2 separate regions of the Homo sapiens genome follow, and region 1 is linked to region 2. Evidence: fine-mapped expression QTL. Tissue or cell type: whole blood. Region 2 holds a variant in brackets; the other region holds the start of a gene. All regions are shown on one strand. Distances are from middle to middle. Region 1 holds the start of APBA3 (amyloid beta precursor protein binding family A member 3). Region 2 overlaps ATCAY (ATCAY kinesin light chain interacting caytaxin).

What was found. PIP is the estimated chance that this variant, and not a neighbour inherited with it, causes the effect. A credible set is the group of variants that fine-mapping cannot tell apart.
Region 1: APBA3 starts here. The variant in region 2 is the best candidate, but not a certain one, in a credible set for the expression of APBA3 in whole blood (INTERVAL, PIP 0.63).

Annotation. Positions count from the first base shown.
Region 1 is chr19:3,760,270-3,763,077 of GRCh38, reverse strand. It overlaps APBA3 (amyloid beta precursor protein binding family A member 3), which reads left to right and starts at 1,386. Exons shown (of 11, transcript NM_004886.4): 1 at 1,386-1,542; 2 at 2,777-2,808. It overlaps MRPL54 (mitochondrial ribosomal protein L54), which reads right to left and starts at 396. Exons shown (of 3, transcript NM_172251.3): 1 at 260-396. The coding sequence starts at 377. It overlaps LOC105372248 (a long non-coding RNA gene), which reads left to right and starts at 438. Exons shown (of 3, transcript XR_936268.1): 1 at 438-520; 2 at 872-929; 3 at 1,224-1,324. RefSeq lists an enhancer at 33-522 and a silencer at 1,184-1,501.
Region 2 is chr19:3,891,566-3,894,373 of GRCh38, reverse strand. The region is part of intron 2 of ATCAY (ATCAY kinesin light chain interacting caytaxin); the gene reads right to left. Among named protein-coding and RNA genes, the nearest start is that of ATCAY, 12 kb to the right of the region's middle. The variant TG/G (reference allele first, on the strand shown) is at 1,465.

The DNA of each region.
Region 1 (2,808 bases), 130 kb after region 2:
AACCACATCCTCCTCCCAGGCCGCTCCGCCCCAAGCTGGCGCCTGCGCCCTGGGTCCAATCGCTACAGTATCTCCGAGCCAGACGCCCGAGCTCCAAGCGGCGCTGGGTCCCTCAAACTGCGCCTGCGCATACAGCCTGGCATCCGCCTCTCTGCGCTTGCGCATCAGTTCTAGCACCACCTCCCCAACCACCGCCTGCGCACTGTCAATTCCTCAGTGCACCCACCGTCCCCATTTGGTTCCTCTTAACCCAGCTCACCTGGTTTCTTGGCATAATCCCGGGCCAGGAGTCTTCCGGAAGTGGCGGGGTTTAGGAGCTCCCAGGCCCCCCAGCCGGCCCACGTCCGGGTAGCCCCGAAAAGGCGTTTGGTCGCCATGACGTATTGCGGGCAGCTTGCAAGTGCACGTTTCCGGAAGACGTCAGTGGCCCAAGGGTGTTTGGGAGTTGTAGGCCCCGTGGAAGTGTAGGCCCCGTGGAGGTGTCTGGGAAATGCGGTCTCCCAAGCTTTCATAATCTATGGTGATTTCTTCAGACTTTTGTAGACATACACAGTTACTATAGGAGGAGGCGTTCAAGGGATATTTCATTGACTTCTTGCCCTTCTTCAATTACATAACATTTACTAAAAATATCACACTTTATATGTTCCTGATTCCATCCAATGAGTAATTATTCAAAGCTTTAAAGTTAAAAAAAGAAGATTAACAATGAGTCTAATATACTCCAGTAGGGCTGGAGTCTAATCACTGTTAATTTTTATAACATTATATTTTTAAAATTATATATAACATATATAATACATATAATATATAGTATGTTTTATATATAATATATAAATTAATAATATATATTTTATATATTCTTTTCCAGCTCTACTACTGCTAAATCCTTAACCCGCTTGATCTAATTTAATCCTCACAATTGAGAGGTAGGTACTATTTTTTCCCCAGCTTATAATGAGGAAACTGAGTTCTCAGGGAGGTAAAGTTCCCAGGCCGACCCCAAATCCATGGTGCACCTATGTGTCTCCCTACTGTGAGCCAAACCGAAAGTCCGTCTTTAACAGGGTCTCCACGACGCTTCCGGTGCCTCAAGGTCCCAAGGAAACCACCTCTCACACTTCTTTAATATTTCCCAACCCCACTTCTCCCCATCTGCCATCCTTTGGAATAATGAACACAGCCCCCAGAGCCAGGCAGTGATTATTAACCCTATTTTGCAGGAGAACAAACAGGTCCTGGGGCCAGCCGGGGCAGTCTGCGGGCCGGGAAGCCTGGGATTCGAACTCCCCTCCAACATCTGCAGTTGTCCCAGCGCCCCCGCGTGGCGAGGCTGGGTGGGAGAACTACATTTCCCAGCAGGCCTCGCGAGGCCGCGCATGCTCAATGGGCCAGGGCTCTGCGCGGATAGAGGAGCGGGCGCCGGGACCGGGAATCCCCGAGCTGCGCCTTCTGGGGACGCGGCCCGGGCTACGTCGGGGCCGTCCGTGGGGAGCGGGGTCCTGGAGGCTGCGCGGGGCTGAGGCGGCCTCGATTTGGGAAGTGAGTGTCCTCGAGGTGCAGAGCGCAGTCTGAGTCGGCGCTTGAGGTCTTCGGTCTGAGGGGGGACTAGGGTCTGGGCTTGGGGCTGGGTCCTGAAGTCGGGGTCTGAGTCTGGAGTCGATCTTGGGGTAGCATTGGAGGTTTGGAGACTGGGGTCCGCCTTATGGCGTCTTGGGTCTCTGGTATTAAGTCCAGGGTCCTGGGTCTAAAGTTCTGGATGGAGGTATTGGGGGTTGAGGTCATGGGACTGGGGTCTTGGGTCTGGGGTCTTGGGGAACTGCCTCTGACCAGTCGGTAGAGTCAGGGTGTGAGGTCTGGGTCTCCAGCCTGGGTTCCGCGTCTTGAGGGAGGAGGACCTGGAAGAACCAGGGCTGGAGTGAACAGACTCCATTAGTTGAGAGAGGTCTGGGATGACACAGGGGCTCGGGAAGCCACTGCCTCACACCTCCCCATTCTGTGGCTCAGTTTCTTCATCTGTAAAATGGGAATCCTAACTTCCTTGCAAGGGTTAGTGGGTATTAAATTATGTGCCCTGTATGAACAGTACCCAGCTAGAGCCTAGCACCGGATAGGCAGCCGGGAAACCTCAAGTTTTTTGTTTTTCGGGTTTGTTTGTTTTTTTTAAGACAGGGCCTCACTCTGTCACCCAGGCTGGAGTGCAGTGGCACAATCAAGGCTCACTGCAGCCTCTGCCTCCCCTGGTTCAGGTGATCCTCCCACCTCAGCCTCCCAAGTAGCTGGGACTACAGCCTACACCACCACCCCTAGCTAGTTTTTTTTTTTTTTTTTGGAGATAGTCTCGTCTGTCGCCCACCTTGGAGTGCAATGGCGCGATCTCAGCTCACTGCAACCTCCGCCTCCCGGGTTCAGGCGATTCTCCTGCCTCAGCCTCTTGCGTAGCTGGGATTACAGGTGCCTGCCACCACACCTGGCTAATTTTTTGTATTTTTAGTAGAGACGGAATTTCACCATGTTAGTCAGGCTGGTCTCAAACTCCTGACCCCATGATCTGCCCGCCTCGGCCTCACAAAGTGCTGGGAATTACAGGCGTGAGCCACTGTGCCCGGCCTTAATTTTTTGTATTTTTTGTAGAGAGAGGGTCTTGCTCTGTTGCCCAGGCTGATCTTGAACTCCTGGGTTCAGTCAGCCCTTCTGGGCCTCCCAAAATTCTGGGATTACAGGCATGAGCCACTGCACCCGGGCGAAACCTCAGTGCTGACTCTCTCTCTTTCAGCTGCCTGAAGATGCCGGCCTAAGCCTGGAGTC
Region 2 (2,808 bases):
TAGCTGGGACTACAGGCGCCTGCCACCACGCCCAGCTAATTTTTTGTATTTTTAGTAGAGACGGGGTTTCACCGTGTTAGCCAGGATGGTCTCGATCTCCTGACCTCGTGACCTGCCCGCCTCGGCCTCCCAAAGTGCTGGGATTACAGACGTGAGCCACCGCGCCCGGCCACCCAGCTAATTTTTATATTTTTCTGCAGATGGGGTCTTGCAGGCTGGTCTTGAACTCCTGGGCTCAAGTGATCCTCCCGCCTTGGCCTCCCAGAGTGCTGGGATTACAGGAGTGAGCCACTGTGCCTGGCTGGAAGCGACTTTTAAGTGTAGACTTTTAAGCATGATGTTGGCGTCCTGCAGAGACCAGGCAAGAGCACTCCAGATGGAAGGCACTGCAGAGGCCCAGGCTCCGGGACTGGAATAAGCTTGCCAAGTTCAAGGGCAGATCAGAAAGCAGACTCAGGGTGCCTGGCGCAGAGAGAGCAGTGGGGGAGGAGGGAGTGGTTGGAGGATGGAGGGTAGGGAGGGAGGGCCAGGGAGAGGCAGTGCCTCGGGGATGGGATGAGGTCCTGAGGCTGAGCTGCCAGTTGCAGTGGATGTTCAGGAAAGGTTTAAGATCATGCAGAACTGGAGAAGCCGACCTGGCAGGGCTCCAGGCTCCCTGAAGGAAGACCCACTGCTCTGGAACATGGGTGGAGCAAGCTCTCCCCGCCTGTTCATGGAGCTGCAGTTTCCAAGGTCAGGTGAGATCCTGTTACTTCCGCAAGCTCCAGGAGAACCGCAGACTCTCCAGACTTGGAGATCCCCTCCGTGGCCCTGGGGTATAATATATCCACTTAGCCCTCTGCAGAGCCGGCTCTCAAAGTCCATGATGGGCAATCCAGGTAAAAAGTGGAAATCCTAGCCGGGCATGGTGGCTCACACCTGTAATCCCAGCACTTTGCGAGGCCGAGGCAGGTGGATCATAAGGTCAAGCGATCAAGACCAGCCTGGCCAACATGGTGAAACCCCGTCTCTACTAAAAATACTAAAATTAGCCTGGCATGGTGGCACATGCCTGTGGTCCCAGCTACAGCTACTTGGGAGGCTGAGGCAGGAGAGTCGCTTGAACCCAGGAGGCGGAGGTTGCAGTGAGCTGAGATCATGCTACTGCACTCCAGCCTGGGCGACAGAGCAAGTCTCCGTCTCAAAAAAAAAAAAAAAAAAAAGTGGGGGTCCCCCCCACATGCAAGATGCACAGCGTGGCTTCGTCCTGCTGAGGTGGGTTGGATCGTGTTCCCCTAAAAGAGATAAGTTTAAGTCCCAGTGCCTGGTGAGACACATACCCCAGTAAACACACAACCCAGTATACTCAACCTGATGCAATGAGTGGTCCCAGATTGGGTCTTGGACCCAGGGTTTGGGGCAGGGGCATTAGCTAAATAGGGACATGGGACATTATCGGTACAATTGAGGGTAAATTTTTTTTTT[TG/G]GAGACAGAGTCTTGCTGTGTTGCTCAGGCTAGAGTGTGGCGGCACAATCTGGGCTCATTGCAACTTCTGCCTCCTGGGTTTAAGCAATTCTCCTGCTTCAGCCTCCCCAGTAGCTGGGATTACAGGTGCCCGCCACCACACCCAGTTGATTTTTGTATTTTTAGTAGAGACGGGGTTTCACCATGTTGGCCTAGGCTGGTCTTGAACTCCCGACCTCAGGTGATCCACCTGCCTTGGCCTCCCAAAGTGCTGGGATTACAGATGTGAGTCACCGCACCCAGCCCTGAGGGCTGACTTTGATATAAAAGGAGCAAAATGTTAACAATTGTATAATCCTACTAAAGGTATGCAGATATTCTTTATATCATTCTTGTAATTTTTTTCCAAGTTTGGAAGTATATCAAATAGGCCAGGCGCAGTGGCTCATGCCTGTAATCCCAGCATTTTGGGAGGCTGAGGTGGGAGGATCATTTGAACCCAGGAGTTTGAGACCAACCTGGGCAACACAGTGAGACCCTGTCTCTACAGAAAATAAAACATAGCTGGGTGTGGTGGCATATGCCTGTGGTCCCAGGTATTCAGGGGGCTGCAGTGGGAGGATCGCCTCAGCCTGGGATGTGGAGGCTGTAGTGAGCTATGATCGCACCACTGCACTCCAGCCTGGGTGACAGAGCAAGACCCCGTCTGGAAAAAAAAAAAAAATTAAAAAGTTACAAGCAGCTGGGCATGGTGGCTCACGCCTGTAATCCCAGCACTTTGGGAAGCTGAGGCGGGTGGATCACTTGAGGTCAGTAGTTCGAGACCAGCCTGACCAATATGGTGAAACCCCATCTCTGCTAAAAATACAAAAATTAGCTGGGCGTGGTGGTGGGCGCCTGTAAACTCAGCTATTTGGGAGGCTGAGGCAGGAGAATTGCTGGAACCTGGGAAGTGGAGGTTGCAGCGAGCCGAGGTCACGTCATTGCATTCCAGCCTGGGCGTTGCAGCGAGACTCTGTTTCAAATAAATAAATAAATAAAACCCCCCAGAAAACCCAAAACAAACAAAGAAAAAGTTACAAGCAAGCAAACAAAACTGGCAGCCACTCAGCTGTGAGGGGAAGAGAGTAGAGGGAGCTATGGGGCAGCTCACCCTGCATCTGACCCTCCTTGGCTAGGATGCCCTGGGTAAGCTCCTCCCCCAAGTCCTCAGTTTCCCCACGCAGCCTTCCCCAGTCCCTCAACCTGCTTCCACTGAGCCCAGAGCCTTTGCACATGCTGCCCTCTCTGCTTGGAATGTGGGGCCCCTACACCCCACTTCCTTCCCCGGCTCATCCCTCCTCACCCTTCACAGCCAAGAATCA